2 linked regions of the Homo sapiens genome follow. The protein of the gene in region 2 interacts with the protein of the main gene of each other region in a pairwise test. Each region holds a gene or a part of one and is shown on either strand. Other genes may lie near its edges.

Region 1 (3,816 bases), on a different chromosome or scaffold from region 2:
TTTCATGCTAAAATGATACTAATTCTTTTTGTTCTTTAGGTGGTATCGGGCCCCCGAGTTACTATTTGGAGCTAGGATGTATGGTGTAGGTGTGGACATGTGGGCTGTTGGCTGTATATTAGCAGAGTTACTTCTAAGGGTAAGTCTAAATTAATGTACGCACTTTAATATTGTTGTTGCAGTTATTTGTTCTGACAGTTTGTATAAGAATTCTTGTCCTAGGCCAGGCATGGTGGCTCACGCCTGTAATCCCAGCACTTTGGGAGGCCGAGGCAGGTGGATCACTTGAGGTCAGGAGTTCGAAGCCAGCCTGGCCAACATGGTGAAACCCCATCTCTACTAAAAATAGAAAAATTAGCTGGGCATGGTGGCGGGTGCCTGTAGTCCCAGCTACTCGGGAGGCTGAGACAGGAGAATCGCTTGAACCTGGGAGGCAGAGGTTGCAATGAGCCAAGATTGTGCCACTGCACTCCAGCCTGGGCAACAGAGCAAGGCTCCATCTCAAAAAAAAAAAAAAAGAAAAAGAAAAAGAAAAGAATTCTTGTCCTGCCAATGTCTTTACAACAAAAAGCCTACAAATAGTCCAATTTTTAAAAAGCCAAATGTAGCATTTTTTAATGTTAATATGAAATGAGAATATCTTCCATTTAGGACAATAAGAACTTTACTGTAGAAGTTTTATACTTCAGAACATAGAAATTCACTTGTAATATGGCAGTATCTCTATAACAACTAAATATGTTCAGATAAACTTTTGTCCTCCTGAGGGTTTTTTTGTTTGGGTCTGTTTTAAGTGCGCTTTAGGAAATGTATAATACCAACCACTGCAGCTACTACTCTGTATAACTTAAGCCTTGTGTGAGACCATTATTTTAGTTCTGTTGAAACAGAACAGATACAATGTTACTATAGCATTTCTGTGACTGAGACCATCATCTTACAGTAAAAAAAATCCCCTGCTTCCCCTCACCAGAGAGAAAGATGCTGACTTGGAAACTTCTCTTTAGCTATGAAGTTTAGATCTCCAGAAAGACTAGCCCTTACGAATGATGAAGGTAAAGGGATACAGGGGAATCCTTCTGAAGCTAGTTTTTTTCTCTCCATATTCTGACCCCTGCTCTCCCTCTCCTTAAGCCATATGTATTTAAAGAAATTCAAACCAAGATTGAATAGCTTTTTTATCTCCTTGAACACAGAAAACAACTTTTGTACACCAAAGAGAAAAACACTAAACTAAAAATGTTTAGTTTAAGCATAGTGGTGGCTCACGCCTATAGTCCCAGCTACTTGGGAAGCTGAGGTGGGAGGATCACTTGTACTCAGGAGTTTGAGGCAAGCCTGGACAATATAGCAAGACCCCAATCTCTTAAAATAAAAAAAAGTAAATTCTGTGCATCATTTTGAGAAACTTACCCAATGGGCATTTGTAGAAGAAACCCACACATTCAAACTTGGAAGGTAATATGGGAATCACAGTGCTAACAGGGGGTCCTGTGAATCAGCTGGCATGATAACTGCTACTTACCTGAACATAGAGTATACCAGAAATTCACACTGAGAATTTATCAACCACCACAATCCATTCATGGCCAAGAAGAAAACAGAATTCCATAGCCCCTAATGTTATGACTGATCACTCCATTGAGAAAGCAAATGAAGAGAGACAGCAGTTGAGAGTAGACAGGTTAGAGATTGTGGACCTGTTAACAATCATACTTGGAAATTTATTAGCCATTGGCATTGTTGCTGGAATCATCTTTAAAGTTATAAGGAAAATGACATGCAGACTAAAGAATTGTACTCTTCTGCCATACCTTTTGTCCTATTTTAAGCTGTTCTTGTGCTCAATTGAAAAGGTAGAAATGTTGCCCATATGAATGCTTAGCCAGGGATCACCAGATAGTTATTAAGGATCTTCAGATAGTAATGAATACTTCCAAAATGAAAGGCAGACTGAAACAAACTAAAAAGAAACTTGGAAAAAATGGAAACAACCAAAGCAGAAGAAAATTCACCGCCCCCAGCCCCCTTTCCAAATATTCAGAGATCTAAGAGATTATAGTGCATCTATAGAATAAGCACACCATACTTTTTTAAAAGGGGAACAATAAAATAAGAGACACTTGAACTATTAAAAATAGAAGATAGCCAAAAGCAAACAAAAACAGTGAAAGGAATGGGAAAGTAAGCTGCAAAACTCTTTCATTAACTAAAATCAAAAGATGAAGAGATGGCTAGGCACAGTGGTACATACCTGTGGTCCCAGCTACGTGCGAGGCTGAGGCAGGAGAATCTCTTGAGCCCAGCAGTTCAAGACCAGCCTGGATAACATTGTGAAACCCTGTCTCAATAAAAAGATAGATGGACTATAGTAGAGAAAAGATAAAATTAACAGATTGATCCAGGATTCTAGAATGTACCAACAGAAAACAAGGAAAATGGAGGGTAGGAAATCTCAAAATAGTGAAGCACTGCTAGATGTGAATCGTCAGACTAAAAGTGCCATGAAGAGTACAATTATGAGGCCGGGCGCAGTAGCTCATGCCTGTAATCCCAGCACTTTGGGAGGCCGAGGTGGGTGGATCACCCAAGGTTGGGAGTTTGAGACCAGCCTGGCCAATATGGAGAAACACTATCTCTACTAAAAATGCAAAATTAGTTGGGTTTGGTGGCACATGCCTGTAATCCCAGCTACTCAGGAGGCTGAGGCAGGAGAATCGCTTGAACCCGGGATGTGGAGGTTGCAGTGAGCTGGAGATCACACCATTGCACTCCAGCCTGGGCAACAAATGTGAAATTCCGTCTAAAAAAAAAAAGGCCAGGCACGGTGGCTCACGCCTGCAATCCCAGCACTTTGGGAGGCTGAGGCAGGCAGATCACGAGGTGAGGAGATAGAGACCATCCTGGCTAACACAGTGAAACCCCGTCTCTGTTGAAAATACAAAAAAAATTAGCTAGGCGTGGTGGCGGGCACCTGTAGTTCCAGCTACTCGGGAGACTGAGGCAGGAGAATGGCATGAACCTGGGAGGTAGAGCTTGCAGTGAGCCAAGATCGCACCACTGCACTCCAGCCTGGGTGACAGAGCGAGACTCCGTCTCAAAAAATAAAAAAAAAAATGAGTACAATTATGAAAATTACAAAGAAAACTTTCAAAAAAAAATTCTAAAGGCTCTGCATGAAAAAAAAAAACCTGTGCCAAGACACACTGTTGTGAAATTTCAGAATACGAAGGGGTAAGAAAAATATTTTATTTGCACAGAGAAGAAAAGCAGCATACATAGAAAAGAAAATAAAGTATTAGGGAAAAAGAATGGCATGAGCCTTCTCAACAGCAGCACTGGAATCTGGAAGTGTTCACATTGTGAGGGAAAATGATGCTCAACCTAGAATTCTTTGCCTGTTCATATTTTCAGTTTGCTCTGAGGGTAACTACAATTTATTACATCAGAAATTTACATCTAGGCCAGGCAGGGCAGCTCACTCCTGTAATCCCAGCACTTTGGGAGGCCAAGGCGGGTGGATCACTTGAGCTCAGGAGTTTGAGACCCACTTGGGCAATGTGGTGAAACCCTGTCTCTACCAAAAATACAAAAATTAGCCGGGCATGGTATTGAGTGCGTGTTTTCCCAGCTACTCAGGAGGCTGAGTTGGCAGGATCACTGGAACCTGGGAATTTGAGGCTGCAAGGAGGTGATATCGTGCCACATCACTCCAGCCTGGGTGACAGAGCAAGACACTAGCTAAAAAAAAAAGAAAAAAAGAAATCAAGAAATTAGCCAGACTTGGTAGTGCATGCCTGTAGTCCCAGCTGCTTG
Region 2 (3,816 bases):
CTTGCTGCAGATGGCACCATGGGCACAAGGCTTGGGGTCCTCCCTCCTCACTCCCTCATCTAAGGCAGTAGAAGAAGTTGCCTGCAAGCCCTGAAGAGCATGGCCTAGGAGGGGAGGGAATGGTGGAGGGGGAAAGAAAGGGAGGGATGTTCTCCCAGGCACCCCAGAGGCTGGAGCTAGCCCCTAACCAAGCAGAACTGGCAGAGGCAGAGAGAGAGAGACAGAGACAGAGACAGAGAGACAGGGACAGAAAGGGAGGAGGGAGGGAATAGGAAGGAGGGAGGAAGGGGGAGGGAAGAGAGAAAGATTGAGAGTGTGTGTGTGAGAGAGAGAGAGGGAGGGAGAGAAGGAGGGAGAGACAGAGAGGGGGAGGGGGAGAGAGAGAGGGAGAGGGAAGAGGAAGGGAGGGAGGGAGAGAGAGAGGGAGGGAGAGAGGGAGGGAGAGAGCGCGCGCGTGAATGCAGCTGAGTCTCCGGCACACACACGGACACGTGCAGACACACACACTCACCCCGCATGCGCAGAGCCACAGGGCTCTGGGTACCGTTCCAGGAGATATTCAGAGCCCTCCCCAGCCCACACATGCACAAAAACACTCTCACATGGATGCGTGCACAACACACCCACTCACTGATGTGTACAAAAATGCCGAAAGACACCAAAGCCTCGGTTCCCCTGTTTCCCCACCCCCATGCCTGGTAAAAGAGAAAAAGAAACAGGCAGCTGGGGCTCTGGGAGCCAAGAGCCGATCTCTTCTTTAGAAGAGGAAAAGAGGAGGAGGAGGAGGTGGGCCAGGGGCTTGGTCCAATCATTCTGCTCTTGGCCACTGCTGAGGGGCATGGCTGAGGCTTTGGTATCAACCTTTAATGCCCACCCCCAAAACAGCGAAGCAAGGATAGTATTTCCTGGGCACCAGTAACACCCATCTTGCTTCCCTTGTCTACCCAGCAAACTTCTGACCCTCCCTCTGGACCACCTCACGCAATGGCATACCGGAGGGAGGTCCCTATGACCCCAGCTTTGGCCTGCCAAGTGACACCAAGGTGGAACCACATGTGCCCCCACCACACACCAGCCCCAGATACTTCAGTGAGAGACTGAGAACTGTCTCTGGTTCCAGGCAGCATGTGTATGCCCCACCCTGGCATGTGCCAGGCCCTGGGAAAAAAGGAGAATCCACAGGCATTGCTCACCATGCCAGGATGCAACATGGATTGAACACAGGGGTCATCCCACCTTGTGTTATTTGCCCTCAACCTGAGTGAGACAGGAACCATTGTCTCTAGATAATGAAAACCCAGGCCCAAAGTCATACGACTAGTGAATGTCAACAGCCAGGCCTCCCAACTCCCAGCCAGTGATCTTCCCACCACGGTCATGCTTGCCTCCCTCCCCAAGAGACACAACAGTTCTCCAAAGTCCCCTAGACACCTTTGCAGCCATGAGAACTAGAGTTGGGTTTTTTGTTTTGTTTTCTGTCTGTTTTGAGAGGATGTGTGTGTGGGGGGTCTCACTCTGTTGTTCAGGCTAGAGTGCAGTGGCACAATCACAGCTCACCGCAGCCTCGACCTTCCAGGCTTAAGCGATCCTCCGGCCTCAGCCTCCCAAGTAGCTGGTAACACAGGCATGCGCCACCACACCTGGCTAACTTTTTAAAGTTGTTTTTAGAGATGGGGTCTCACTATGTTGACCAGGCTGATCATGAACTACTGGCCTCAAGTGATCCTCCCGCCTTGGCCTCCCAAAATATTGAGATTACAGGCATGAGCCACTGTGCCCAGCCGAGAACTAGAGTTGAGATTGGTTCCCACTCCAAAGGCTTCCCGTCACCCCTACAGGGTATCCTCCCATTGTCCTTCCTTCACCTTGAGGGGCAGGGCTAAATAAAAGGGGTTTGGAGAGGGGATCCTGATCACCAGACTCACAAAGGCAAAGAGGCAACCCAGGACAGATGCTGGATCTCAAAGTGCTGTGCCCACCACACTGGTCATTACTCAGTGCTTCAGTTTCTCTCTGCCACCACCTTTCACACTAAGTACCACTCCATGGAGGGCAGGGGAATCTGGTGCCTATCAGCCAGAGCTGGGTCCTGGTTGACCAATGCTGGGCTCCCAGGAGGGAGGAAGGGCACTGCCTCCTCTTTGAGCCCACACATAAGAGAGGGGACGGCTTTCCTTGTTCTCTCTCTCCCACCCCCAGAGCTCAGACCCTGAACAGAGATGCAGTGATGCCCAAAGATTTATGCAGGTGCCCCTAGCTGGTGGGGTGTGTCCCAGGCTGAGGGGCCAAGGGCTCCTTGTAAGCTGAAGGGCGAGGGTCAAAGGAGGGTGGGGCAGAGGGGCCTGCCTTGGGCTCTTTCCCATACACTCATTCCAGGCTGCAAAAATTTGTCTGGGAGGAAAAGATTACATGACGGTGAGAAGGCTGGAAATTGGAGACCCACTGCCCCAGGCCCCAGTCTCACTGATGTCTAGGAGACCCAATTCTCCACGAAGCTTCTCTAAGAAATCTGGGAGACCCCAGGCCCACAGCTTCCTTCACCCATCACAACCGCTCACATATACAGTTTGTTATGAACTAGGCACTTTTAAAAACATTTTTCCTCAAAAAAGCTAAATGAGGTAGATATGATCATCCCCAATTTACAGATGAGGCAACGGGGAAGTTAAATCGCTTGCTCAAAGTCACACATCCAGCAAGTGACAGAGCTGGGATTCAGACCTAGGCAGTCCAGGTCAATCATGGCCGTCATGATCATCACCATCATCTCTGTTCTTAGCTGTGATGGTATATCACCTGCTTGATAGATAATGCCTTGTTCTTTTTTGTTTTTCTTTTTTTTTTTTTTTTTTTTTGAGACGGAGTCTCGCTCTGTCACCCAGTCTGTAGTGCAGTGGTACAATCTCAGCTCACTGCAACCTCCACCTCCTGGGTTCAAGCGATTCTCCTGCCTCAGCCTCCTGAGTAGCTGGGATTACAGGACCCCGCCACCACACCCAGCTAAGTTTTGTATTTTTAGTAGAGATGGGGTTTCACCATCTTGGTCAGACTGGTCTTGAACTCCTGACCTCAGGTGATCTGCCTGCCTCCGCCTCCCAGTGTGCTAGGATTACGGGTGTGAGCCACTGTGCCCGGCCCAATGCCTTGTTCTTTCATCCAGCTATGTGTTCCCTGAGACCAAGCCTCAGTCTTTCCCCTCTGTAGCTGCCCTGTGGGTTCTCTGCCAAGTGCCTCCACCTCCAAATAGTCCAAGGCTAGAGGGGAGCATAGCGAGAAGTGCTTGGTGCCCCCGGGCTCGATGTCTCCTGCCTGAGTTCCCCCTCCTCAAATTCCCTCTCCAGAAGAGGTACCCCTTCTAGGCTGGAACCTGCACTCACGGGTGGGAGGGCCTCGCTTAGTACATACTTAGTCTAGGCAGCTGTGCCCTCAGAACCAGGCCCTGAGGCTGGGCAAAAAGGACACAGCTGTTGGGCATCTCTGAGGTGGGCCTCAGCTGCCAGGGGTGTGGAGAAAGGCCATTGTGAGCCCTGCAGTGGACCCAACTCAGCAGGGTCCTGCCAGCTCCCGCCACTGCCCATGGGGGCGGTTCTTTTCCAGCTTGGGCCAGTGTGGGGGGAGCCTCTTCATGGCTTGTTTAAGAGCTGCTAGCTGGCTGCAGCCTGCACCCTGAGGGTGCCCACAGAACTGGTGTCTCCAGACATGCAGGCCCGAGGGGTCAGCATGGGCAGTGGCTGACCCCCCCCCCCTTCCCCCATTCCCAGCCCCTAAAACTTGCTGGCCACAGCTGCGGCACTAAGGAAGTGCAGGAAGTCCTGA

What was found.
Region 1: the proteins of THRA (region 2) and CDK7 interact in a two-hybrid assay, tested with the Homo sapiens proteins (one study listed by BioGRID).

What each region holds. Positions count from the first base shown.
Region 1 is NC_000005.10:69,262,166-69,265,981, forward strand, and holds part of CDK7 (cyclin-dependent kinase 7), read left to right. Parts: intron 1-39; coding exon 40-139; intron 140-3,816. UniProt on the Homo sapiens protein: Serine/threonine kinase involved in cell cycle control and in RNA polymerase II-mediated RNA transcription. Cyclin-dependent kinases (CDKs) are activated by the binding to a cyclin and mediate the progression through the cell cycle.
Region 2 is NC_000017.11:40,065,703-40,069,518, reverse strand, and holds part of THRA (thyroid hormone receptor alpha), read right to left. Parts: intron 1-3,816.